Linked DNA regions of Homo sapiens. The protein of the gene in region 1 purifies or fractionates together with the protein of each later gene. This does not show direct contact. Each region holds a gene or a part of one and is shown on either strand. Other genes may lie near its edges. The genes, in order: RBM18, TMOD2, CNRIP1 and RIOX2.

Region 1 (7,177 bases):
TTTAGTAGAGACGGGGTTTCACCTTGTTAGCCAGGTTGGTCTCGATCTCCTGACCTCGTGATCCACCCACCTCGGCCTCCCAAAGTGCTAGGATTACAGGCGTGAGCCACCGCACCCGGCCTAATGATGGATATTATTTTTAAAGCAAATGAGTAGCACAAAGGCAAATCATTTCTCGCGATGGAATTTTTAACAGTAAGGGATACTAGAAGTTAGTGATCAGTGTATGAAGTCTATAAAACCAGATTTGATGAAAAAAGGGAATATTTTTCTTCTTTACTAGTATCAATAGCTACTATTAATTGAGGTCAAGTTTGGACTGTTTGCTTTAACCATACTATTTCATTTAATTCTCTCAATAATGCCACAAAGAACGTATAATAATCCCCATTTTACAGATGCTGAAACTGAGGTTCAGAGAGATTAAGTCACTGTCCAAGGACATGGAGCTAATAGCCAAGCTCTATTTTAGCAGAACTGTTCACAGAGGTTTGGCTCAGAGTGAAGTTTCTATATCTAGGTTTTTCCCTAATAAAACCAATGCCTAACTCATACTTATAACCAAATATGGCTGTAGAATAATGAGTAGATTTTATTTTAGTCTACAGGGTCTCAATCTGGCTGCTCCATTTAAGACAGGTTTCCTGGTATTCCTGTTGCAGGTCATAATACCAACTCACAAAGCAACAGGAAATCAAAATGGGTTAGAAATAAACAACCTTTGACAGAAAACGCAGCACCCAAAAGCAGACCCAGTACACGTGAACCGGAAGACAACTCTATAAATAAACCACATCGCTGAAATGCTTAAGGCGTAGATTTTAATTGCACAGAAGTCAAGAAATTTCAAAGTGGAAGTTCAATAAAAGCAGTCCTTTAGGTCCTTTACCTTAAGGGTATACAAATTAACATTCAGTTCAGCACAGATAAAGAATTAAAGTTGAAGAAAAATTTGTTGAGATCCCAAGTATGAGCCAACAAAATTAACCTATACATAGAAGCAATGTGGGGAAGTGTCTGAGCTTTGGACGCAGTCTGGAACTGGAATCTCAATTCCCCCACTTACTAGCTGTGTGACCTTGGGGAGGTCATTTAGCCTCTCTGAGCTACAGCTTCCACATCATCATCATAGTGATATTAATGAGACTTTAAAAGATAACAATAATGACAATACCTAACATTTATATAACAATGACTACGTGACAGAAACTATTCTAAGTGGTTTATGCACATGAACTCATTTCAGCCTCATGATAACCCTGAAGTAAGTACTATGATTATTCCCACTTTACAGATAAGAAAACAGAAGCAAAAATCTGCCCAAGATTTGAATTCAGTCAATCTAGCTCTAGAGTCTATGTTATTAACTGCTATACAATGCATATAGAACACTCAGCATGGCTGGGAACAGTGATGGGTGCCTATAGTCCCAGTTACTTGGGATGCTAAGGAAGGAGGATCACTTCAGGCCAGGAGTCCAAGGCCAGCCTTGGCAATATAGTGAGACCTAGTCACTTAACAAAACACATACACACAGTACAATGCCTGGCATCCAGTAGGTACACAATAAATTGTAGCTATTATAATAGCATCCCAACTATTAAATTTTTTTTTTTTTTTTTTTGAGACAGAGTCTCACTCTGTTGCCCAGGCTGGAGAGCAGTGGCACGTTCTCAGCTCACTGCAACCTATGCCTTCCAGGTTCAGGGGATTCTCCTGCCTCAGCCTCCTGAGTAGGTGGGACTACAGGCACCCACCACCACACCCAGTTAACTTTTATATATTTTAAGTAGAGATGGGGTTTCACCATGTTGGCCAGGCTGGTCTCAAACTCCTTACCTCAGGTGATCTGCCCGCCTCGGCCTCCCAAAGTGCTGGGATTACCGGCGTGAGCCACTGCGCCGGCCTGAATTTTTTTTCTTTTTTTTTTTTTTTGAGACGGAGTCTCACTCTGTCGCCCAGGCTGGAGTGCAGTGGCGCAATCTTGGCTCACTGCAACCTCCGCCTCCAGGGTTCAAGCCATTCTCCTAACTCAACCTCCCAAATAGCTGGGATTACAGGCGTGCGCCACCACACCCAGCTAATTTTTGTATTTTTAGTAGACGGGGTTTCACCGTGTTAGCCAGGATGGTCTCGACCCCCTGACCTCGTGATCCGCCCGCCTGGGCCTCCCAATGTGCTGAGATTACAGACTGAAATATTTTTTTAAACTACTTGAAGCACACATTCTTTTTCCAAAGTTGAGGGTCTCAAACGATTTCCCTGTTCTTCACAGAAGGTTCATTTTAATTTTGGCTAGATGACCAACCCAAAATCCTGGCTTATCTACTGTCCCAGCAACTCTTTTCAATGCAGCTGTATACTAGCTTATAACATAAGCACTTCTATGAGTGTGCATATACGCAGGCTCTTGCATATAAAATACTTTCACATGTACCATCTTAACTGGTTCTCATAACTAAAGAGTGATAATCACCACCCGTATTTTGCAAAATAAGAAAAGTGATCTTTCACTTCTCCAGGGCTCCCCCTGCTCCAGGGTCTTCAAACATGCCATTGAATCTCCTTGATGATCTTCCCTCACCTCTTTAACTGTTTGTCTCCGTTTTTATTTCAGATTTCAGCTTAACCATCACTTCCTCAGAGGACGGCTTCCTTGGCCATCTCCTACAGCCCAACTAGGTCAAGTGTCCTGTAGTCTGCTTTCATAGCACCCTTTACTTCATCATAGCACTTAATTCTTAACAATACAAGCTAACATTTGTGTAATTATTTGATTGTCTAATTCCCTCCATATGACTCTAAGTACTACAAGGACTAATCTATGATTTTCTTGTTCACTGCTGTATCCCCAGTACCTGGTACATTGCCAGAACACAGAAGACACTGTGAATGTGATGAATACATCAGTGAAAGTCCAGAAAGATAAATTCCTTATCCAGGGTAAACCAGAATCGGATGGGAATCTACCCTTACTATTATGGTAGGTTCTGGGCTTCCCAGCGTTGCCTCCACTGTCTCTGGTTTGCCAGATTTTTGCTTAGAGATAGTAGATGATGTTCTTCTCTAAATGCAGTACCAGGTAAAGAAAGGTACTTGTAGTATCTGACTATACACAGAATCATTATGCACCTGGCACGGCCAAAGAAGGAATGAGACACTTTAACAGGTAGAGAAAGGGCTTTTGCCTAAGAGTTAAGAGATCTGGATTCCAGTATGCCTACCTTATCACTCCCTGCCATCTGCCATTTAGATTCATAATCACACGTATTCAAAAAGCATTTGCGGCAGCTCTACCACTGACTTGTGACTTGTACCAAGTGATTTCTCCTACGTAGATTTTGTTTCAACCATAAAATGAAGGGGTCAGATCAGGTTTTCATTCTTTCCAACTATAAAGCTTTCCAAAATGGGGGGAAATGCAACAGTGTGGTTTAAAACAAAATAAAGGCACTAAACTTAGAGAAAACTCCGAGTCTTGGTTCCAGCACTTCCTAGGCACGTGACCTTAAATCGGTCAAACTCTCAGGACTTCCGTCTCATCTGTAAAACGTAAATGACAATACTATTTGTCAGGGTTAAGTAAATGGAGAAGGGCTACTGAAATGACAACTGTTTTGCCACTGGGTGGCACAGAGTGGTGGTTAAAAGTCCAGGCTTAGGAGTCGGATAGCCCTAGGTCTGAATTTAAGCGCCCTCACTTTCTGACCGCGTGACCCTGGTAAAATTACCTATGTGAGCTTCCGTTTCTTCATTATGGGAGATAATAATATCTACTCCTATGGGATTGTTCTGAAACTCAAACGTTCCCGTCAAGTGTGCGGCTACTCTTTAGTAAGTTCCTCCAGCATCCCCTAAATTCCTAGCTGGTAAAAGGAGCCCCGCCCCCACCCCATGAGACTCGCTCCAATGCCACAGGTCCCGCCCTCAGCCTTAAAGGTCAAGCTGGACTCGAACGGGTCGGGGACGGTAGTCTGGTCCCCTGAGGTCCCCCAGAGGTCCCTGAGTAAGGGTCTCTGGCACCCAGACCACACGCGCCCCTCGAGGCCCTGTCAAGGACACTCACCAGCTATCGCCCAGGTTACTAAGGAAAGACTCGTGCGACGGCGGCGACCGCAGCTGCGCGGACGTCGTGACGTCACGAAGCCAGGAGGCGGCGCAGGCTTAACGCGTCACGGGCGGCCTGGCAGCTGGCGGCATTGAGGCGGACGCGTCTAGAGGTCCGTCTGACCGCGGCGTCGGGACCTGGTTTCCGGGCATGAGCTGAGAGCACCACGCCGAGGCCACGAGGTGAGTTCGGCCGCGACATGTCCCTGCACCTCAGCGATGGGCCCGCTAAGAGGTCTTACAGGAGGCCGCCCTCGCAGGACTGCATCTCAGGCCCCGCCCCGGATTGTCCTGTCGCTGGCCCGGAAATAACAATCCGAGTAATGACCCTTCGCCTGTAGGAATTCGCAGCCAGAAATCGGGAAGCCAGGGTTCCAGGCATGACCCCACCGCTTGCTGTTAGGATCAGGTGTCTCTTCTTCTCTGGATTGCACTTTCCCCAGATGACTATTTCTGGCTTCCAGAGTTATTGCAGCTCAGCTGGAAAGACAAATGTAACCGCGTTTTGTGAACTCTGGTAGTCTAAAGGATTGTTGCTATTGCAAACGCAAAGCATTTTGATAGTCCCGTGCCGTCTTGATCTTTTATTACCCTTTACCTTTCCTCAAAAAGCCATATTCTGAGCTGTCACCAAAATTGTCTTATTTAAGACTCACAACGACCTCGTGAGACGACAAATTGTACCCATTCTAGGAAGGAAAAAGAAACTAAGTCTTCGAGTGGAGAAGCGGCTTGCTTCATTTAGTAAATATTAAGCACCAACCGTGAGACAGGCAGTGTACTTAAGTGCTAGAAATAGAACCGTGATCAAGATTGGCAAGGTCCTGTGCTGTGGGAGCTTACGTTCTAGTGAAGGAAATAGAAGAGGAAACATTAAGTAATACATTGAATTAGCATTTAGTAGGAGGAAAAAGATGGAAAAGTGGCTATGATATAGAATAACAAGGAACTCTGTTTAGGAAAGCTTTTCTATCGAGAGGATGCTTAAAGAAAGGTCATGTGACTTGCTAAAGGTGCAGTTACTAGGTGCAAAAGTCAGGATTTGAACCCAGACCCGCATAGCCTGCACTCTTACCAGTAAAACATGGTACCTTTTCGTGGTAATAAATATTAATAGCTATTGGTATTATTCCTGATTTTAGACATGAGAAAATCAGAATGTCCTATCATTCAAGTCCCAAATGTCATCTCCTTTAGAGAGGCCTTCCCTCCACTCAATCTATAGTCGTCGAGTCCCTGTCACATCACCCTGCTTAATTGTGTTTGTGGCATGTATCACTAATTATATCTTCTTTATTTATTTTGCTTTTGTTTTGTCCTGCTCCCCTTCCAAATACAAGCATCCAGAGGATAGGGACCTTGCTTGTTCACTGCTCTGACTCCAGTAACTGGATAAGTCCTAGATAATAGAAGCAGTGAATTTATTTTTTGAATGAATGATTTGTTTAAAAAGTAGGGGGAAAGGAAAGCAGAGGGAAGACAAAAATGTGTCTCCCCTGGGATTAAATTTATGTCTGTTTCACCTTTCTCCCAGGAGGTAAGAACAAGAGCTGTGGCTTTTTCATTTGTCTATTTCAGTACATAGCCCAGAGTTTAACAGTTCCTAGTTGCTTGACTTACATTGCTGAACAGATTAAAGATGTGAATGGGAAAGGAAGAAAAATACCCTCATGTGCAGGGTATTCAATAAACAATTACCTAGGGACTGCTGTGCTAGACTTTACAGGGTGTGCTGAGATGATTAAGAGGTAATGGCAGTTGTTGTGACTGCCTCCATGGTTCCTGTAGTGCTGACCTCTGAGGTACTTCTGGGTATAGGATATGTGTTCTCTAGCAGGGACTTCTGAACTCTGACACAGCCTGCTGTCCTCCCAGCCCCTAAAGCTTTATTTCACATCTGTCGTCTCATTTTTGGTCCTCGAAGCCTTAAGTTATAAACAGGGCAAAATTTATTAAAGATGGGTAAACTGAAGCTCAGAAAGAAATAACTTCCAGTGGAAATGCCACAGTTTGTGCTGGGCATGGTGGCTCACACCTGTAATCCCAGCACTTTGAGAGGCCGACGTGGATGGATCACTTGGGGTCAGGAGTTGGAGACCAGCCTGGCCAACATAGTGAAACCCTGCCTCTACAAGAAAATACAAAAATTAGACAGGCTTAGTGGCATGCACCTGTAATCCCAGCTACTCGGGAGGCTGAGGCATGAGAATTGCTTGAACCCGGGAAGTGGAAGTTGTAGTGAGCCGAGATCGTGCCACCGCCCATGAGTCTGGGCAACAGAGCGAGAGTCTGTCTCAAAAACAAAAAAAAAGAGAAAGAAAGAAATGCCACAATTTGAAACAATGTCTTCTGACACCAAGGTTTCTGCTCTTTCTACTGCTGTCTCCATCATAATCATAATCCTCTTTTCTCCTTGGCTGTGAGATGAGACATTTCAGGAACTAAGACTAGTAATAATTTAAGCTAACATTAATTGAATGCTTCCTAGGTGCCATGCACGGTTCTAAATGCTCTAGGTGTATTAACTCAGTGAATCTGCACTGTAATTTCATGAGGCATTATCCCCATTTTACAGATGAGGGAACTGAGGCCAACAGCTGTTAAGTAACTTGCACAGGGCTACATAGCTAGCAAATGGTGGAACTTGAATAACTAAGGAGGAAATTAGTCTCTTCTTCCTGGTCTGTCCCAAAAGAGTAAGCATGATAATAGCTAGTATTTATTGATTACTTACTGTTGTTAGATACAGTATTTAGTGATTTTTTTACTGTCTTTAATCTTCACAACAACTCTATAAAATAAGCACTATTATCTCTCTAGATAATGAGGAAACTGAGGCCTAGAAAGTTCAGGTAGTTCATCAAGTCACACAACCTGCTTTCAAACCCAGTTCTGTCTACGCACAGATTTCTTATATTGCCTCTTCTCTTTGCTATATTGCCTCTTCTCTTTGCTATATTGCCTCTTCCATGAGGAAAAGGGATGGAGTGCTGCTCTTCCCTACCCATCCCTTTTAATGCCATTAAGACTCTTCCTGGTGGTTTCCAAGGCTTATTTTGGGTGACAGTTG
Region 2 (7,719 bases), on another chromosome or scaffold:
CACCTTAGTCCAGGCATGGTGGCTCATGCCCGTAATCCCAACACTTCGAGAAGCCAAGGCAGGCAGATCACTTGAGGTCAGGTGTTCGTGACCAGCCTAGCCAACATGGTGAAACCCTGTCTCTACTAAAAAAAAAAAAAAAAAAAAAAAAATACGAAAATTAGCCGGGCTTGGTGGCACACGCCTGTAGTCCCAGCTACTTGGGAGGCTTAGACATGAGAATTGCTTGAACCCGGGAGGCAGAGGTTGCAGTGAGCCGAGATCACGCCATTGCACTCCAGCCTGGGTAACAGAGTAAGACTCTGTCTCAAAACCAACAACAACAACAACAACAACAAAAACTGTAATGCCAGCACTTTGGGAGGCTGAGGCAGGCGGATCACTTGAGGTCAGGAGTTTGAGACTAGCCTGACCAACATGGAGAAACCCCATCTCTACTAAAAATACAAAATTAGCCAGGCGTGGTGGCGCATGCCTGTAATCCCAGCTACCTGGGAGGCTAAGGCAGGAGAATCGCTTGAACCCAGGGGGTGGAGGCTGTGGTGAGCCGAGATCACGCCATTGCACTCCAGCCTGGGCAACAAGAGCAAATCTCTGTCTCAAAATAATAATAATAATTTTAGAAAACAGACCTTAATATAATCAAATATTCTGTGTTCACATTTTCCCTAATTGTCTCATTAATGTGAATTTTTAACAGCTGCTTTCTCAAATTAAGATCACACATTACATTTTGTTATTTGTCTCTTGAATTTCTGTGTATCTATAAGCTTTCTCTCCTTTTATTTTTCTTGCAATTTATTTATTGAAGAATCAGTTGTTTGTCATGTAGAGCTTCCTATATTTTGGATTTTGCTGATTGCATCACTGTGGTATCATTTAACATGATCATGATTACATAGTAATTAGCTTTTAGATGTTTGCTGTCAATTATACTACACATACGATTTAATTCATAATTCATCAACATAGTCACTGCTCCTTTAGTCTTTATCATCCACCATATCCTTTGAAGCATCTTTGACACAAATTATCTCAGTTAGTCTTTCTAATAACCCCATGTGGTAAGTATTATTATCCTCAGTTTAAGAGATGAAGAAGGCCGGGCCCGGTGGCTCACGCCTGTGATCCCAGCACTTTGGGAGGCCGAGGCAGGTGGATCACAAGGTCAGGAGATCGACACCATCCTGGTCAACATGGTGAAACCCCGTCTCTACTAAAATACAAAGAATTAGGCGGGTGTAGTGGCAGCACCTGTAGTCCCAGCTACTCAGGAGGCTGAGGCAGGGGAATCGCTTGAACCCAGAGGTTGCAGTGAGCCAAGATCGCACCACTGCACTCCAGCCTGGTGACAGAACAAGACTCCGTCTCAAAAAAAAAAAAAAAAAAAAAAAAAAAGATGAAGAAAATGAGGCTTAAGGGAGGTTACAGAAACTTGGCCATAGTCATTGTGCCAGTAAATATCTGGGTTCAAACTCTCTGATGTTAAAACCCATGTTGTTATCTGTTATATGATAATATCCCATCACATTGCCTGTGGTTTGTGGTGGTTGTTTTTAATCAACTCTAGGAAGCAGTCTTTCAGTCCATCCAAAGAATGTACTTTCACATTTCATCTTTAACACTTAGGATGCTTTCAGCTTCAAGTAACAGAAAACTCCATCTCAAATTGACTCAACAATAAGGTTATTTATTATCTCATATAACAAGAAATCCAGAAGAAGGGCAGCACTGGGGCTGGTTGATGACTGACTCAACAACAATATGGCCGACCCAGATTCATCGTATCTCTTTACAATGGCCAGAACTGGGTCACATGTCCACTCCTAAACTCTTACAGGCCAGTTAAGAGGATTCTATTCCTCTTGTCTATGATAGATTTGAGAGTGTACCTCTCAGAGGCTAATAGGGTCACCTTTCCTAATGTGTAAACACCCATATAGGCTTCTATAAAGAAGAAGAGGGTGGACTGAATGTTTAATAGACAACCAACAGTGTCTACTACCTGTTCCTAATGAGGTGTGCTACATATTCCACTGTGAATAATTAAAATACTTCATTATAACTGCCACGTTGAACTTTTTTCCTTTCTGCCATTTGACAATTACAGTCAATATATCAGCTTCCTCATTTACAGGAAGAAATGGCTACACAAAATGATATGTAAGGTCCCTTCCAGCTCCAGGAGTTCTGTTTCAATTTTACATTTTCATCTTCTAAAAAGCAAGTAGAAAAGTTAAACTTACAAGATATGGTCCAGAAATGATCATGGGTTTCAACTGATAAGTCATAGGCATATTGACATCCTTTCTTCCTTAAGATAAGACATAGGCAATAGATTTAAAGAGCTAAACAGACTGGAACTGGTAATATCTTTCCATTAAGTTTTAACATTAGGTTAAATGTTCTACTTCCCTCACTCATCCTTTAACACCTTCCAGCTTCCAACACTCATCATACAGACAGAGACTGATCAGAAGTTTCTTTTCACAACTCACTTTATTTTGGTGTCAGCATCCTCCTGGAGCATGGCTCTGGGGCTGTAGGATAGCTCTTGTATCTCTGCTTCGACTGCCGAACATGACTTTAACTTAAATCATTCCCCTGTCTGCTTCCTTTCATGGCTAGTTTCTGAAGGAATACTCTATTCGTTTTATCACATGCAGCCATTTTCCTCGTGCAGAACCACGGGAAACCAAAGAGAAATACTGTACACTACTGAGCACCTTTGCTACTCTTTCTTCCAATATGAATGAAATTGCTTTATTATTTTCAGCATATGCCTACTATCAGCTTTCTCTGGGAAAACTGCTGGCTCGATCCGTAAGCAGCCCTGTTCTTATTTAACAGAAGGCTATGACTGTAACAAATGTACAACATAAAAAAGTCAAAGGCATCCTGTCGGTTACACAGGACATTCGGAATAACAAATGTACAGGAAAACTTGGGAACATGACTTAAAGTAATTTGGTCACACCCCCATTTCATTTAACTCTTTCTGGCTCAGATTTGTCATTCTGACAGGAGGCCCAAGATATAGTCCATTACCACAATTGATCATAGAAACAACACTGGTCTCTCAGTCAGCAGCCACTGCGTGCCAGTGTTCATCATGCTAGTTCCCAGAGTTTTAGAGGATTAACTTTACTTTCTGGTTCAACCCATCTGCTGGGGAAGGTATGGCCCTATTTTGCAATGTGCAAAAGGGAGACAGTGCTGGGGGTGCCCACAGTGGAAGGAGAGAAGACAGGCTTACTGAACACCCCTATGACCTTGAATAAGTCACATCACCTCTCTGTGCCTCTTATTAACTATCATTGGGGAAAAATACCTTCACTCTGCCTGTCTCACAAGGGTTCTTGTAAAAATCAAATGAGAACACAAATAGGAAAGTATTTTCATAAATGCAAACCAGTGTTATCATTTTCAGATGTGGAATTTCCTCTGCAGCACGTTTTTTTGGCCACACGATTACTGCACACCTCGTGCCAGACAGACTATAAAGCTGTTTCACCTCTTTTCACATTTTGCCTAAAATTTCATATAGAGATTACACCAGCCATGCTGCATCCATCCCTTTGGTTCATTTTCCTCCACTACATCTGTGAATGCAAATCCCACCATCATGTGAAACACTGCATAGCAGCAACTTGCAAAACTCAACGAACCTTAGACTGCCAAGATAAGTCCCATAAGCAAAGGTTATGCTCAAAATATGCTGCAAAAGTTCAAGAAGGAGAGAGATATCACATCTAATTAGAAAAGGCCTCTGGAAGTTAAATCTAGATGCCATGTATTTTCATAATGTTGGTCTTTGTCCTATGTCACCCCACTCTGCTGTCATGCTTCAGAAACTTGACTTTATTTTCTCTATCTTTGGAGCTCTCAAGAACCTGGCAGACAGAACATCTCAGGGTATATTCAGGGATGAAGTGAACGGGCTCAACGACTAACAAACCCAGTGGATTTTAACATTTACCCAGCCCAACGAGGTCCAACTATCTTTAGGTTAGCACGACATATAGGACTTTCCCGGCCCAAGAACTCCCTCGGAAACCCCAAGGAAGGAACTTTCACTGAGTATGCACTAAGTGCCAGATCCTAAGTGCTATGGGTCGCTTAATCCTCACAACACTTTTTCAAGCTTGAAGCCTGTTTTACAGATGAGGACGCGAAGGCTCAGACAGGCTAAGTTGTCCGGTCTCACCTCAGTGAAGCCGCCACTGCGCTTGGGCTCTCCAGCCCCTCACGCCATCACCCTAGAGCCTTGCTAACTTCCACCTCGCTTACCTCCTTCCCTCCCTAGGCTGCCAACCCAACTACTCTCTCCTCCCACGCCCACGCCCAGCCAGGAAAACCTGGGGCGGGCGGGGTCTGTACCTGAGACCGCTCTCAACGCGGCTTCCGTGTCAGGATGCTCGCTCACAGGAATGCTCATCACAGGCTTGAAAGCCTTTGCCATCCACGCTCTCCGGAGCCCCGAGCGTCTCCAAAGAGCCTGCCCAGGCTTCTCCCCGACCCAGGTGCTTCCTCCCCTGCAGAGCTGTGGCGGGGTTCAGACCCCGATTCCGGGAGAGGACACCTGTCGGGGAAGGGCGGGGCTGGGGGACTGCGGGGCCGCGGCGAGGCTCAGCCGGGAACTACGCTTCCCAGCCTGCTCCGCTGCAGCCGCGCGCCCCGGCGCCGCGCCCGGCCGGGAGCCGCCTGTTGATCGCCGCGCTCGCCCCGGCCACGGCGCCGCCCCTGTTCTCCCGGCCCCGCTCCACCGGGGCTGACGGACTGACGGCCAGCACAGCCGGCTCCGGGATGAGCGCACGGACGGGTGAGCGCCCCGGGGGGCGGGTGGGGCCTGTTCTGGACAGCCGGTGTCTGCAGCCCCCGGGCCCGCAGCGCGGTGGCCGCCGTGCCCTCCCTGCCCGCGGGAGGATGCTCCGCGACATGGGCGGTCGGCCGGGCGGGCGTGCAGAGCCGGGCCGCCTCTCGCCTCTCGCCTCCCGGCCCGGTCGGCTGCGCCGGGAGACCAGGCGCTGCGCCCGGGCGGGAGGCGCCCGCCGGGGTGTGAGTCCCGCGCCCCGCACTGCGGTGCCGCAGCCTCTGCAGCCCGCTGGGCCGCAGCGGGGAGGGCGCGGTCTCCTGTCCTCCCGGGCTGCGGGGCTGTGTTCTTCCACTCCGGGCTTTGTTCCCCCACTTTTCCCCTTCCTGTGCATGTTTGGTGAGCTCCTGGAGCGGTATGCATCTCCCTGCCTCGTTCAGCAGGCGATGGGGAGGGGTGGACTGGCCGGCGTCTTTCCTGAGATCGCTGGAGCTGTCACTCGCAGGGCGTTTCAGCCTCCCAGTAAGCGGCCTCGTGCGGATCCTCGAGAACCTTATTATTATTGTTATTACTTTTCTGGTTAAAGTAATTGTAGTATGTGCTCCCTTGAGGCTTCCTAAATGTTCCCTGTTGACCTGCGGAAATGAAGGTGGATTTTTAAAACAGTAATAAAAGGCTTCTAATGGGAATTTTTAGAGTATTCAGAGGTAGGAAGGTGATGCCGTCACAATGCAAATTAGCAGTGAAGGAGGCCGTGCTTACTGCAGCTTCGTCTGTGCCCATTACATATCTGAATCACGAGGCATTTAGGACGGGAATGAAAAGAAGATCGGGGGAGGTGTTTTAAAAACCAGGTTCTCCTCTTAGCTTGACCATTCAGGAGCTGAGGGACCTGGGCAAGTCCCTCCACCTCTCTGGGCCTCTGCATGTAAAGGGGCGTTTGGGCTAAATGATTTGTAAACCTCTGTTCTTCCAAGATTCTCCCCTCTCAGGGAACTGAAAAGATGAGAGTGTTTCTGTTTAACAGCACTACAAAAAGCCTAATTGTGACAACAAGCGCCTCTACCCTAGTGAGGAGGAAAGATTTTTCAGAGCTTCAGCAATCTGATTTTTTTTTAAAGATAAAACTGATTTTCTCGATCGACTCTCTTCAGTCTAACCCAATAAATACGCATTGCAATCATTTTAATTTTTGTAAGGTACTGTACATTGGTGGGCAACAAAATGATGGGGTTTGTTTTTGTCTTTAATTTGCTGAAGGTGAAGTGATGGGATCAGCAGATAAAGGATTAGTGGCTCCCTAGGGCTGGGCACGAGTGGTCAAATGTGGTCAGCATGGAGGTCGGGGAGGAAGCCCCAGCAAGAAGTAACCAGAATGTGTATACACAGAAAAGAGAAGTTGCGTACTGATGGATCATTGTTTGAAAAAGAAATATGCAATAGAAGGAATGAGAGAATCAGGAACTCGGCGCTCTGCAAACCTAACATAACAGTTGAATAAGGCAAGGACTTACCAACTGGTCCAAAACCTTTGAGTGAAAGGTGGTTGGGGAATAGGATTTTCATATTATTTCAAAGTATCTCACCACAGTTTACTCTGGGAAAATTTGTCCTTACAATGGAGAAATTAGGAGGTCACCACTGGAACCAAATGACCAAGTTTAGCAGCATCTACTGCGAGTCTCCCGTTGTGAAGCAATAAGGAGGCATAATTTCACCTCTGTAGTGTTCCTGCAAAAAGACTTGGCGATGGGGCAGAGCAAATGGGAGCAACTATTGTAGGTTAAAATACTCAAGTGATACAATAGTGAATTGGGATGTGTGAACTTTGAATCCTAGATGCAAAAAAAAAAGCTATAAAAGACAATTTGGAGATAGTTGGGGATGTTTGAATATGGATTGCATGTTAGATGATATTATGGAATTGGTGTTAATTTTCTTAGGTGCAATAATAGTTCATTCTTGTGGTTACCTAGACCAGACAATCCTTATTCTTTGGAGATGTGGATATTGGAGGTGAAGTGTCATGACATCTGCAACTTTCAGCTGTGTCAGAAAAAAAAAAAAAAGGATAGGGGTAGCAGAACAAGTTCAGGAACGTAGCAAATGTGGCAGAATGATGACGGTTGGTGAATCAAGAAGAAAACAAATGTTTATTGTACTATTCTTTTAACTTTTCTATAGATTTGAACTTTAAGAAATGGGGAAGTCAATAAAATAAATAAGCGAATAAAGAGAAAGTGTTGTAGAAGACGGGGGTGGTTCGTGACAAACAGCTGCAGTGAATCTGTGGGGAATTTCTTGGCTTCACCTTCCCAAAATTGAAATCACCTATTGGAGGTGTGAGTGGGGGGGACGGGGGGTTGGTGTTCCCATTTTTGGTTTATCTTGGCTACTCTCAATCATTTATGCTTAAGTACCCCATCCTCTAGCTTCAACTTCAAAGTATTAGTAATTCTCCATACCTAAGAAATTCTAGCCCTACCCAAGAACCATCCCGAAAGTGCTGTCCCTTTCCTCTCTGTGTCCGAGATCTGTGTCAGTGTGTAAGGAAGTTTGAGAACATAGGCAGTGGTTCATTTTATTTTGGGTTAGGGTAGTGTTGGGGGAAAAATGATTTAGCTTTGTGATAGGATAGAAGTTTTGGGGTTTCCTCTCATTCCCTTGTGTGTAAATCATATACAACCAAATGTTTTCCTTATAGACTTTAAGTGGTTCAAAGAGGTTCATAGAAGGCATGTGCAGAAGAGACTTCCTGTTACCAGACCACGAAAACAGAATCAACTCTTACAACACTTAATCTCTTACACGGAATCCCTTGCTGCAAAGATATTTTTGCTTTACCTGGATTATATGTGTTTATGTATACATGAAAATACTAATTTAAAGTATACATATTTACTTGC
Region 3 (7,026 bases), on another chromosome or scaffold:
TTTACGTATGTATGTATGTATGTATGTATGTATGCATGCATGTATTTTGAGTACATTCCCTAACCTCAGAAGTAGGTATCAGAGTAAAGAGTTTTGGATTGGCCAGGCACGGTGGCTCACTCCTGTAATCCCAGCACTTTGGGAGGCCGAGGCAGGTGGATCACTTGAGGTCAGGAGTTCGAGACCAGCGTGGCCAACATGGTGAAACCCTGTCTCTAATAAAAATACAAAAATTAGCCAGGTGTGGTGGCACGCGCCTGTAGCCCCAGCTACTCTGGCGGCTGAGGCAGGAGAATCGCTTGAACCTGGGAGGTGGAGGCTGCAGTGAGCTGAGATCGCACCACTGCATTCCAGCCTGGGCAACAAAAGTGAAACTCCATCTCAAATAAAGCAAAACAGTTTTGGATTGATAGAGCAGCTGGAGAAATAGGGGAACCTCAGGGTGGGTATATCCAAAAATCTCAGTATAAGCTCTCCAGTTCCTTGGCTGACTGCTAAGCTCCATGGGCACAAAAGGAGACCAGGCTAGAAAAGCAGCAACTGGAAGTTATAAAAACTGAGCAAAGAGATCAGCTGCTGCATACTGCTGGAAGATAGAATTTGAAGTTTGAGTACAGGAATGTTTACTGCCAGCTAGAATACAAAAAACCAGTAATACCCAGAAGAATAAAGCAGAAACTAGAGTTGGTAATAAACTATCCACAATGTTAAGTTTGTGGCCAAAAATTACGAGACATGTAATGAAACATGAAAGTGTGACCCATATTAAAAAAAAAAAAAGTCAGGCTGTAATAATTTACTCTAACTAGAGCCAGGTGTTGGATTTATTAACTACTTCAAACCAGCAATTACAAATGTGCTCAGATAAATTAAGGAAAACATGGTCTCAATTAGCCAACATAAGGAATCTTGAGAAACTGAAACTATAAAAAAGACAAATGAAAATTCTAGAGCTAAAAAATGTTATAGAATTTAGAAGATAAGCACAAGACTAGAAATAGAAGAATCAGTGAACTTAAGGATACATCAGTAGAAATGATCTAATCTGAAGATCCATTAAAAAAAGAAAGAAAATTGAACATGTCCTCAAAGACTTATGGGATAATACCAAGCTTTTCAACATATGTTTAGTTGGGGTCCTACAAAGAAAGGAGAGAATGAAGTATTAAAAAAGTATTTAACAAAACAATGGTTAATAATACTCCAATTTTGGTGAAAACATTAACCTCTAGATTCAAGAAATTCAGTGATCCCCAAGGGGGGAAAAACCAGTTAAGATGCATCATAACCAAACTACTGACAAGCAGAAAGAACTCTATGAAGGGATCATTTTACTGTATATGTATTATACTTAAGTTAAAATATTTCAAAGCAAACAAGGGAAGGGAATAAATATAGGATTAGAAAACAATGAAGTAGAAAAACAGAGTGAAGCATGTGAAAAAAAAAGCTAGGATTTTGAAAAGGCCAATAAAACTGAAATCTCTAGCTAGACTAATCAGAGGGTATAAAAATAAAAATTTTGAATAACAAGAGTGAAAGAGTAGGTCGGGCGCGGCAGCTCATACCTGTAATCTGAGCCCTTTGAGAGGACAAGGTGGGCGGATCTTGTGAGGCCAGGAGTTCGAGACCAGCCTGGCCAACATGGCAAAAGCCCATCTCTACTAAAAATACAAAAAATTAGCTGGGTATGGTGGTGCGCACCTGTAATCCCAGCTACTTGGGAGGCCGAGGCAGGAGAATTGCCTGAATCTGGGAGGCAGAAGTTTCAGTAAACCGAGATTGCACCACTGCACTCCAGCCTGAGAGACAGAGTGAGACTCCATCTCCGGGGAAAAAAAAAAAAAAAAAAAAAAAGAAAAGGATCAAAGAGTAAAAGAGTAGACATTATTAGAGATCCTAAGACACTGAAGAATGGCGGAGATTATAAACAACTTTATGGGAATAAAGTTGAAAATTTAATTGAAATAAATGACTTCTAAGATAAATTACAAAAACTCAGGAAATAAAACCTGAATAGCCCGATATCTATTAACGAAATTGAATTTGTAATAAAAAATCTTCAAATAAAGTATAATCTATGCCTTCATTGGTGAATTCTGACATTAAGAAAAATATCATTTCTATATAAACTCTTCCAGAAAATAGAAGAATGAACACTTTCCGAATCATTTTATGTAGCCAGCATTACTCTGATACCCAAAACTAGACAAAGGCATTATAAGAAAAGCAAACCATAGACAAATATCCCCCCCGGAACATAGATGTCAAAAATCCTTAACAAAATATTAATGAATCAAATCCAGTTTTACATACCGAGAATAAACCATGACCAGTGGTATTTAACCTGGGAATTCAAGGTTATTTTAACTTTGAAAAAGCAAGGTAATCTACCATAAACAGAATAAAACACCTTATGATCATTTCAAAAGATACAGAAAAACTATTTGAAAACATGTTATAATACGTTCATGATTAAAAAAACATTCAGTAAACCAGGAATAGAAGAGAACTCCTTTAACCTGATAAAAAGATTTACAATAAAGAACCTTACAGCTACTATACTTTGTATTGAAAAACAGAATGCTTTCTCTCTCAGACTGAGGGACAAGAATGTCCACTCTCACCATTTCTATTTAGCAGCATACTGCGAAGGTCCTAGCCATTGCAATTAGGCCATAAATAAAATGAATACAGATTGGAAAGAAAAGAGAAACTATTTACAGATGACATGATAGCATATTTAGAAAATCCTAGGGATCCTCCAAAAACAGCTATTAGGATTAGTGAGATTAGCTAAGTCTCAGGATTCAATATCAATATACAAAAAAAATCGATTTTATTTCCATATACCAGCAAAGATTCCATTTACATTATTCAAAAATATGAAATAATAAATTTAACAAAATATGTATAAAGTCTGTAGAGGAAATACTGTAATATATTGTGGAGAAAATTAAAGATGACCTAAGAGATATTTCATGTTCATGGTATAGAAAACTCTATATTAAGATGTCAAATATCTTTAAGTTGACCTATAGGTTTAATGGAAACTCTATATCCCAATTTTTGGAGGAATTGACAAGCTCATTCTAAAATCTATATAAAACACAAAGGACCTAGATTAAGCAAAAGAACTTAGAATAAACAAAGCTAGAAGATTTATGCTACCTGTTTTAAGGACTACAATATAGATCAAACAAGATTGTTTTGGGTCTTCTATGTCTTTGGAATTTCCAAATTAAAAAGACATACATTGAGTATGTAAAGCAACTAGAATTCTCATACACTGCTGGTGGATATACAAAATGGTACAACAGTGTGGATATTTCTTACACAGATAAACACATACTTACCATGTGATTTAGCAATTGTCCTCTTAGGTATTTACTCAAGAGAAATGAAAATATGTTCACACTGAGACTTATACTCAAATGTTCACAGCAGCTTTATTCATAATAGCAAAAGCTGAAAACAACCCAGATGTCCATTTATTGGTAAAGGGAGAAATTATGGTATATCCACACAACATAATATGCTACCCAGAAATAAAATGAACCAACTACTGATATGTGCAACATAGGTGAATCTCAACATTATACTAAGTGAAAGAAGTCAAACAGCACTGTTCCATTTACATGAAATTCTTACATAGTTAAAACTAACATATTGAGATGGCAAGCTCAGGATAGGTTAGGTTGGGAGGAATTAACTGCAAATAATTTTCAGGGTAATAGAAGTGTTCTGTTATCTTTATTGGGGTGGTGATTATATAGTAGCATCTACTTGTCAAAACCTATGTAACTGTAAAGTTGGTGCATTTTATGTTAATCATATCTCAAAGCTGATTTCAAAAACTTCAATGATTTCCTATAGTCATTAGGATAAATCCAGTGGCAAAAAGGTTCTATATCATCCAACCCCTACTTACCTCTCTGGCTTTATCTTATACTGTCTTTGCCTCACTCTATGCCCACCATGTTGGGCTTCTCATCCATTAGAATACATACGCTGTCTCCAGCTCTTGACTTTTACAACTACTCTTTCCTCAAATGCTCTTTCTTTCCTCAACTCTTATTCATCCTTCATTTTTTCCTCAAGAAAACCATCCCGCAAATCTTGGACTAGGATAAGACCCTTGGTATATACTCTAACAGCACTACTTTTTTGCTATACTTTTCATATTAGCAATTATTTACCTTATCATTGATAATCATGTATAAAGTATGTTTCCACCCTCAAGATCAGAAATTCTATGAAACCCGGGTTATCTATTTTGTTCACCACTCTTCCCCCTGAGTCCCTGATATACAGGAAATCCTCAAATATTTGCTGATAAAGCAAGCAAATTTTAAAAATCTAAAAATTCTAAATAAAAGAGCATATAGAATTTAGCAATATATTAATAATACATGTTTAAGTAGGGCTTATTGTAAAAAATAAGGTTTAGTATTTGGAAGTGTATTACTTTATGTAATTCATCAAATATATCAAATAAGATAAATTATCTCCAACTACTGCTACTAGCTGTAGTTGACTGCTAGCAGCAGTCAACATTATTCTAGAAACATTAGACAATGCAATATGACCAGGAAAAAAAAAGACAGTTATATTCAGATTCTGACCATCTATATGAAAAACCCAAGATGATTTGCTGAAAAATTTTAGTAAGCAAGTTCAGTAAGGTGGTCAGTTACAAAGTATATGAATACATATTATAAAAACAGTGTATCTAAAACAATGCAGTATTGGTGTAACAATAGATAGATCAATGGAATAGATTAGGGAGTATAGGAGGAGATAAAATTTTTGCAATATAAGAAATTTCTATGAAACTGACCTTTGGAGAAGCATAGATTATTTAAATAATTGTATTAGGACACTGTGGGCAAATACTTTCCAATATAAAAGTAAGAACTGAAATAATATCTAAATCTGTAATTCATCTAAAATTTAACAAATGAGACCATAAGAGTTCAGATGAAAATACACAAATGCCACTGTGTATATGTCTATATATAATTAATTAATCTGGGAGTCAAGGAAGACTTTCTAAGCTGGATCTTAACTGCAAAATAATAAAGGAAAAGGCTAACATGTTTGACTACAAAATTTATATTTTATATTGTAAACAAAATAAAAATTAAAATATTAAATGAACACTCAAGATGTGATAAAAATGACGATTTTAAATTTATAAAGATTTTTCAAAAAATCAATAAGATACACTTAAGCAGAAAAATGGGTGAAAACTATGAACATATAATCCATGAAGCAAATACAAATAGTAAATGAATATGTCAGGATTTCAAATTAACAGTAAGTAAAAATTGAAGTATTTCAGTCAGATTAAAAATATGTAAACATGACAAACTATACCTAGTGCAGAGAGAAATGGATACTTAAATACAGATGATAGGCGTGTAAATTGCCTAGCTTTTCTGGAGGTCAGTGAGGCAGTCTTATAAAATGCCTTAACGTGCACATTTCTTCTAGAAATCAAGAAAACATTAGACAATTGTACAGTACTCAGTGATTTGTAATGTGGTTTTGTTTATAATACCGAAAACCAGAAATAATCAGCAATAAGTGACTGAGGATAATTTGATACATTCATAAAATACAATACCCATACAGACTTTAAAATGACATTCCATATATATATATGGGCATATATTTGACATTGAAAGATGTATACAAGTAGAAAAAAGTATATATATGGAATGATACTCAAATATATATATTTAATGACAGGGTCTTACTCTTGTCACCGAGGCTGGAGTGCAGTGGTGTGATCATAGCTCACTGCAGCCTCAACCTCCTGGATCCAAGTGATCCTCCTGCCTCAGCCTCCCAAGTTGCTGGCACTACAGGTGTGGTATCACCACACCCGGTTAACTAAAAAAAATTTTTTTAGAGACAGGGTCCCACTATGTTGCCCAGGCTCACACATATATATTCAAAGACATAGAAACAACTTTCTAAGAACATTTATTGACATGTTAACAACACTTCTCTCTTGCAGGAATTATACATTTCCCTCATTTTTGTATTTTTCTGTGTTGAAGGTTCTTTGACAGAACAAGAGCACTTTCTAAAAATAGTTCAAACATTGGATGCAAAGGGATGAGCTGCTAGATTATTTCCTTATGTGACTATTGTGGTTTTAAAAAGTATAATGGGGACTGGGAACACTTTAAGTTTCCAAAGGTTAGATAGGCATTTCTCAAAGTGCATTCCCACACCATCCTCTTCAGGATCTGGTATGCTTGCTAAGAGTTTCTCTGTCCCCACCCTAGCTCTACTGAGCTAAGATCACTGGAGAGGGAACCTAGGACTGGAATTTTAAACAAACTCCCAAAGAGATTCTCACGCATACCGATATTTGAGAACCCTTGTGATACTTCCTATAAAGCTAGAGGGCAGACAGTTGAAGGTTGTTCTTGCAGAGGGAAAAGGCTGCCCAGTTTGCAAGCAGCAGTTTAGGTGAAGCTTCCTTTTCCTGTGCTTTAGCAAGCTTGCTTCATCACCTATTTATTATGTTTGCACATATAGTTAAATCTATGTCTTGACTCTATCCTTTCTACCAATTTGTTTTTTCTTACTTGGGGCCATATTACCAGGGTATATCATTTTATTATATATGATATCTGATAGGATTACCAGATATTATATATAATAGGTATATATAATATAGGTATATATATATTATATAGGTGTATATATAATAGGTATATATTATATAAAATAGGTGTATTATAGGATATTATATAAGAGGTGTATTTTTCCCATGACACTTTTTTTGGCTCCTCCATTTAGCTTTAAGTAGCAAAGTGTCATTCAAATCAGCTTTCTCTTAACCAGAATATTGTGGCCTACTTGGAATCAGAAACTTTTCACAGCCAATTATCTAAACCAGTTCTGAAGTAGACTATAACTGGGAAAATGGCAATGTAGGTTCTGTCTCTTCCAGAACCATCTGCTTCTGCTTATGGTGTCTTTTCAGCATCTACAGGGTCAGTCTGT
Region 4 (7,026 bases), on another chromosome or scaffold:
ATGTTAGCATTCTGTGGAATTGCCTGTGTTCAACAGGAGAACACAAAGACCTAGCTGTGAGTGCCAGGCCAGCTTTTTGGCTGCTGTTCTTTCTCAGGGTTGAGTGAAAAGAGTATTTTTTACTAACTTTAATAAAACTCTTAATTATGACCAAGAGAGAACCACTGAGATAGATAATCTATAAGGTCCCTTCCAACACTGATTCTATATACATTTTTATCATAGTCTTTGGAGGAAGCTTAGAATTTGTTTTTGATTGTATCTATTCAAAATAGCAAATGTTTTACAAGCACATGGTTTAATCTTTAGCAGAACAGTTTGCTTATGCACCAGCTTATGGCCCAGACTACTTCAGTGTTTTCCTTATCTTAGGCATTATACTCAATAAAGTGATGATCCCTCACGACTCCTTCCCCACGCAGATGACCCTGTAAGGCTAGTCTGTTTTTATTGGGTATTGTTCCACTAAGTTAAATCCAATTTGGAAAAAAAAAATTTTCTGTGGACTTTATTAGATGGCTTTTATAGGATACTATTCTTGACTTACATAGACTGAATAATTGACCAGGGTCACACACCTAATAATTGGTGGAGTAGTGCAATTTTGAACTCAGGTAGTACTTCCAGAGTCCATATGTTGAGCGAGAAGCTTGTAGAGGACAGAACCTGGAGGAGTGAGTGTTCTGTGCAGAAAGCACCACAGCCTTATGTGCTATGATAGCCACTGTACTTCGATGGTATTATTTTTGTCTATTTATTGTACTTATAAACTTACATTATTTATCTATGTCTGTCTTCACTGTAAGAATGAGCTGCATAATGATGTGAACTATAATATCAGTACAATGTTGGGGTAAGCAAATTCTTCAGTTGGAGTGTATGCCATGTTTGGATTCACCTGTAAATTGTTAGTAAATGTGTTTCCTATGTGTATGTATAAGCAAGTTTGAATCTGCCTGTTTCCTTTTTTGAAGGTCGGCTTTCTCTCTTTGGGGTTTTCTAGGTGGAAAGTTACCGAGGCTGGACAGTGTAGTGAGACTGCAGTTTAAAGACCACATTGTCCTCACAGTACTGCCGGATCAAGATCAATCTGTGAGTATCCAAGAGGAGGAGATTTCCTGTCTTCTCAGGGTGTTTTTCATCAGAGGCCTCAGGTTATTAGATTAACCACTGGTCTCTGCCCTTCTTTAGGAATCCACCTGCATTCAGTTTAATGCCATTTCTTCAGGTCAGATGATGACCAAATCTCACAGTTCCAATTCCATATTTTCTTGCCCTCATCCTCACAGAACCTTCCTTCATCCCCTTTATGTGGTGATTAATGTCTGGTCTTTGCTTCTCATCCTACTTCGGGCCTTACTGTTCTTGCTTGGACAGCCACAGACCTCATTCCTGAGTTTCTCAGCCCCAGTCCTCCACACTGTGCAGATCTATATTTCTATGTGGTTTTGTGGATATTGTTGCATCTCCTTAAACTCTATCCTGTAGATTATGGAGAACAAAGTATATATTCTGTAATTTTGCTTCCTAGCCCAGTGATTCCCCAAACTGGCTAACTGATCATGGAGTCAATTGGAAAGCTTTTTAAAATTATAAATTCCTGGGTTTCATCTGGTCTTGGAGCCTTTGGATTTATGTTTTGATAGAGCTCCCTGTACAGTCCTAAAGACCTTGGAACGATCTCATACCATATGGCTCCACCTCATTCCTCCTAATCAGCTCTCTAAGGAGCTATCCCATGAATGATCAAGGGGGATGAGAGGGGCACTCAACATGTCTCGATAACCAGATTGTTCCAGCCGTCAGGGCCAGAGTTGGAATATATATATGAATATACATGAATAGATATATATATATATATATATACATCCTCAAAAGTACACATTCCTACATCCCTGTCTAAAAAAAAAATAGTGATTCTGATAACCAGTCAGTTTGAGACATTGTACGCTAGGCTAAGATTTTTTTGCCCTTATCTAAGAGGTGACAAAGAATGACTAAAGGCTCTGGAAGAGACAATAAACTGCACTGTGTAACATGGGGAGTGAAGGGAGATAGGGACCATTTGGGAGGGTAGTGTAATTGAAATGGAGTTTTTTATCGATCACACAGCTGGTATTTCTCAGGAGTTAATGACTTCATGATTATAAATTGTCAGTTTATACCTAGAAATGTCAGATTTTTTTATTCAAAAAAGATAGTGCAGGTATGATTAAAAAAACTGAGGATTTCATTGATAAGTTGATACATAAATCACTGCTTTTTCATTAAATCCTGAAGATGCTCTTCCAGGTAGCACTCCAGCTGTTTTAACAACTTAGAATGCCCATTAATTGCCACATACAAATAGTAACCTGTGGTGACTAATGAAGTATAGACATTGTGTGGATGCACACACCCGTCACTTTTTGCCAAAAGGATTCTTTACAGTATTCAATAAATTTCACTTGAGCACCAAGGCTTTTGAAATTTTTTTTGGTGTTGACCTATTGGAAAACCTTCCTAGTACTGACACCTTCAGTGTTGTGTTGTTGATGGCCTAATGCATTTATTTTTTCCCCAAAGGATGAAGCTCAAGAAAAGATGGTGTACATCTATCATTCCTTAAAGAATAGTAGAGAGACACACATGATGGGAAATGAGGAGGAAACAGAGGTTTGTTTCAACTGAAAACAAATGCCTATCCTGTGACTTGGGTGGTGGTTGGGAAGAATTGATTATTTTTGATTTACAGGTAATATGCTTTTTATGGCTGCACTGTGGACTTAACCATTTTGCACTACTCACAGAGCTCCTGCATGGGGATGATTAAGTCAGACATTTCTGTGATACATGCACACCAGTTTTAAGACATACTAGCTGGGACCTGTAGCCTTATAGGAATGGTATAATGTAAAACATTTCAAATTACTAATATCACTTACTACATAAATTAGGATGCCTTTTATATAGAAGTTGGCATCTTTTATGTTATCTAATTGTAGTGTGTCTAAAATACTCATGAGGGGTATCAAAAATAATGATGTATGGAGAATAAATTTACAGGAAAATGCTACTTCAATGACATAAGTAGTATACATATATTTTGACAAATAAATTTATCCTTTCAGTTTCATGGACTTCGCTTCCCTTTGTCACATTTGGATGCACTGAAGCAAATTTGGAATAGTCCAGCTATTTCTGTCAAGGACCTGAAACTTACTACAGATGAGGAAAAGGAAAGCCTGGTATTATCCCTCTGGACAGAATGTTTAATTCAAGTAGTCTAGTGCCTTTGCAGAATCAAATGCCTACTATTTTATATGCATATATTAAAAGAAAAGCAAAGACCTGAGCCGAGGAGAGGATGAATTCAAGTTTCCTTACCTGCGTATCTACTAACAAACATGAGACCTCCCTGTTACAGGTGGTCAGTTGGCCAAATGTACTAACGGGCACATGAAAGAAAGAACAGCAAATTACCAAGTGTCTCAGAAAATGACAAAACCATATTTTGACAAGTTTATTTAATCCAGTGTGGTAGAAAAGGCACAATTCCAATGTATCATTTAGAATTGAATGTCATTAACCTGGCTTTGTTCTTTGGAAGAAACAACTTCTTTAAAGAGCTTCTTTGGCTCTAGAAAAATTTCAAACAATTAAAATAAGAAAAAATTTTAAACTGGTTTTTTATAATGAAAATATACATACCTTTGTGTATAGACAAGCCCATGCCCATTAAAATAAAGTTATCCTGTAACATAAATTTTATTAAATAATACTTCCCCACAGATGAGAGGCACGCAACACCTATGGACAAAAGGGAGTTACAGAGGCTGCTTAAAAGATGGAGAAAAGCCTGAGATTGAAGGAGGAAAAAAACCCAGTATTTAAAGTCTATAAAAAATACTCAAAATAGTGGGTCTTCGAGTTTAAAATAGTCATTGTTATTTTACATTCTAAAGTGCATGTAGGTTGATATTTTTTAAAATATCATTGGAGAATTTAATCTTTCTTTATAAAAATAGAGCATTTTTCTGCTTTCTGGCAAAAGTTGGGGATAAAAGGAAAAAAAGTTGTCAAAATGTAATTTTCAGTCCAATTCACCAGGAAAACATGCTTGTGAATTGTGCAGTAAAAGGTGGTAATGACTACTGGAAGCTAAGTCAAAGGTGATTTCCTACCTGATTTTACTTACTTAAATAAAAGTTACTTACAATGGGAGTGAAAAACTGAGGTTTCTGTTATTTAGTAGAGAAATCAACTCCACGTTTACTTAAAGAGATGGTAAGGTCAAGGTTCAAATGCTACTGTGTTTTAATTTGGATATTTGAAATTTCTCTTGAGGCAAAAAAAAAAAAAAATTGATGCCTCTCCTTAAATCTAGGATGAAGTGTCAACATGGAGACAGGTAACCACTGTTATAGAGTCTTGTCACCTAAAGGGATGTCTTGGTTAACACGTAACAGTGCAAGTTTGGCCATAGGTTATTTATTTGTACTTTTTTAGTTTGAAGGACTGAGGAAACAATAGCTACAGAAAATACTTCTTGTGCCTTATTCCTAACAAAGCTGAGGTCCCTGCCTGGGGTTAGTTACAAGTATAAATACTTAACGAGGTGCGTTCATTATAAAAGCCTCAGTATAGAAACCTTAAAGTTTATCTAGGAAAGTTTAGTATATTTTCAGGTGTTGCTAAAAAATTACTCATCTGTTTGCAAAAGTATGACTTGACCTATAGAAATCTGTTTCTTTATGCTTTGTACTCATACAAGCATCTAGGTAGGATATTAATAAATAATACAGGATAATAGCATCACCAGTGTCCAATAACGGGCCATCAGGAACAGGATTCACGTTTGGTGGATATGAGAGAAAATAAACACTTCAGGAAACTTGCTCACCACAGCTGGAGATCAGGAATAGAACCTTTCCAAGATATCATAATATTTTCTTTATAGGAACACTGAGTAATGGCAAGAATATTTTGAGCTTTTCCATGGTTAAGAGCGATAGTCTCAGAGGCTGGAGAAAATGTTCATTCTGCTCAGTGATCCAGGAGTGTGAGGACAGTAGCTTCCTTTCCACGTCCACAAGACAATGACAGATGTGTTTCCTTCTTTGCTCTTTCTAGGGATCTTTCTAGGGATGTTGATTCTCTCACAATATTTCAATGTCCCATTTCTGTGTTTCTTCTCCCTCCAGGGGCTGATTTACAATTACATGAGTCTTGTCACAATAATTTCCTCCTAAAATAGAAATTCCAAAAGAAAAGATTATTTGTTCAGGCAGGTGCTTAGCAATTTCACAATTTTCACAAGCTTCTGTTCAGCTCACCATTTCGGTGGATGAATGTGTCATTTACAAAGAAGTCTGAAATGGGAAGCTGAGTTTGAACAGGCTTAGCCATTATTCACCTCAAATTGGACCTTATTATGACTCAAATTGAAATACTAAAAGGTATAATACATGATTGTATAAGTGGCGTGCCTTAATGTGATTCTTTAGAACAAAGTGCTCTTGAGAGAACTCTGGCTGAATGTCAGGTACTGTGTTTTTGTTTCTACACCAACAAAACTGTGACTAACCCAATTAAAGCAACAGCCATGAATAATATTGGCCCTGACCTTGCTGAATTCAAAAACAAGGTTAATTGATACCTACCATAAATTCTACCTGAGGGTTTTTAAGGACCATGGCAATTCCTGGCAAAAAGCTAGAGATGTTTCTAAGAAACAGATGACATTCATTTCATGGTTTATGGTGCTTGAAATTTAGAACTGTTCTGAGTTCACGTAGCAAATGAAAGTTTTACAACTGTACTAATGAACAAAAACCCTAAGCTTTGTTGTTTGGCTTTTTCTGCTAATTGTTTTGTTTGTAAAACTGCCTATCTTAATTTTCTTCAAGCATAATTTTAAATGACTTAACATTTCTCTTATACATAAGGATGTCCTTTACCCAAAATGAGGAGATTTGGAACTGAAACTAATATCCAGGGACACAACATTGGGTATCATCAAAGGCCCACCTTTAACATCAAGGACAAGTTGATCACTGAGATAAGAGCTGATAGTTCCATTTTTATTCAGTCTCCACTTCTGCCTGAATTGCCCATGTTCAGTCCATAGAGCTACTTTAGCTCCAGGTGTGTCCCGGCCACCAATCACATCAAGACATGTATCACTGGCCTAAAAGGGTTAAGAAATGATTAATTGGCAGTAGTATGTTTGCTAAAGTAAGTTGAATTAGGTCCCTTTTATCTTAGGTAAACAAGTCATAGACATGAAGTGTGTGTGTGTCTTATCTAAAAAAATACTATATAGTATAATTTCAGTAAGCCTTTTTTAATGTCTTCTTTACGGCTGTGGGTAGGAGATGGTACAGAAATAAACCAACTGAAATAGAGGTACTTGTTTTTAATAGGATGTCTACATCTGACAACAGATGTTCAATAAAGATTTGGTGAATTGGAATTAAATGTTAAATCCCTGTTTGCTTAAAACGTATTATGTTGAGCTTGGTTTTCTTATGAAAACATTGCATGATGGGCTAAAGATATCCAGACAATAATTACTTTTAAAAGTTTTTCATTTTTGAAGCATGAGAAAAAGTAGATAATCCATTGGTGATACAATAAAACACAGTTTGAATGTTTTTAAAGTAGTGTTCTATTCCCAATGCATTAAACATAACGGAAGGGTCATAGAAAAGAACCCTAAATTTTATTTTCTAAGCTTCTTCCAATAACAGCTTTCTTCTTCTACTGCTTCTTTGTATACTTTGAAAATGAAAGGTTTCAACATATTTAGAATCACAGAGATGGCTGATTTTATCTGGGCCATCAAGTAAGGAACATCTTACAAAAGCACATTGTCCAACTTAGATCTGGTGACTTATACCATTGGTTGTAAAAAATCACTTAGGTATATCCATAATATGTGATAACCTTTGTGTTTACTTAAAAATTGAAACTGGATTTTCTTGTTCAAAAAATTAAGTTAATTTTATATAAATGTTTTAGTAATATATGGCAGTATTTTTATAA

What was found.
Region 2: the proteins of RBM18 (region 1) and TMOD2 purify together in Homo sapiens (affinity purification with mass spectrometry; 3 studies listed by BioGRID and IntAct, with this or other methods). This does not show direct contact.
Region 3: the proteins of RBM18 (region 1) and CNRIP1 purify together in Homo sapiens (affinity purification with mass spectrometry; 3 studies listed by BioGRID and IntAct, with this or other methods). This does not show direct contact.
Region 4: the proteins of RBM18 (region 1) and RIOX2 purify together in Homo sapiens (affinity purification with mass spectrometry; 3 studies listed by BioGRID and IntAct, with this or other methods). This does not show direct contact.

What each region holds. Positions count from the first base shown.
Region 1 is NC_000009.12:122,261,828-122,269,004, reverse strand, and holds the start of RBM18 (probable RNA-binding protein 18), read left to right. Parts: upstream 1-4,164; 5' UTR 4,165-4,290; intron 4,291-7,177. Other genes in the region: MRRF (ribosome-recycling factor, mitochondrial), read right to left, coding at 3,225-3,259.
Region 2 is NC_000015.10:51,746,891-51,754,609, forward strand, and holds the start of TMOD2 (tropomodulin-2), read left to right. Parts: upstream 1-4,706; 5' UTR 4,707-4,822; intron 4,823-7,719. UniProt on the Homo sapiens protein: Blocks the elongation and depolymerization of the actin filaments at the pointed end. The Tmod/TM complex contributes to the formation of the short actin protofilament, which in turn defines the geometry of the membrane skeleton.
Region 3 is NC_000002.12:68,309,946-68,316,971, forward strand, and holds part of CNRIP1 (CB1 cannabinoid receptor-interacting protein 1), read right to left. Parts: intron 1-7,026.
Region 4 is NC_000003.12:97,941,427-97,948,452, reverse strand, and holds the end of RIOX2 (ribosomal oxygenase 2), read left to right. Parts: intron 1-1,003; coding exon 1,004-1,092; intron 1,093-2,565; coding exon 2,566-2,655; intron 2,656-3,110; coding exon 3,111-3,269; 3' UTR 3,270-5,138; coding exon of another isoform or gene 5,139-5,227; 3' UTR 5,228-6,009; coding exon of another isoform or gene 6,010-6,169; 3' UTR 6,170-6,635; downstream 6,636-7,026. Other genes in the region: CRYBG3 (very large A-kinase anchor protein), read right to left, coding at 5,139-5,227, 6,010-6,169. UniProt on the Homo sapiens protein: Oxygenase that can act as both a histone lysine demethylase and a ribosomal histidine hydroxylase. Is involved in the demethylation of trimethylated 'Lys-9' on histone H3 (H3K9me3), leading to an increase in ribosomal RNA expression.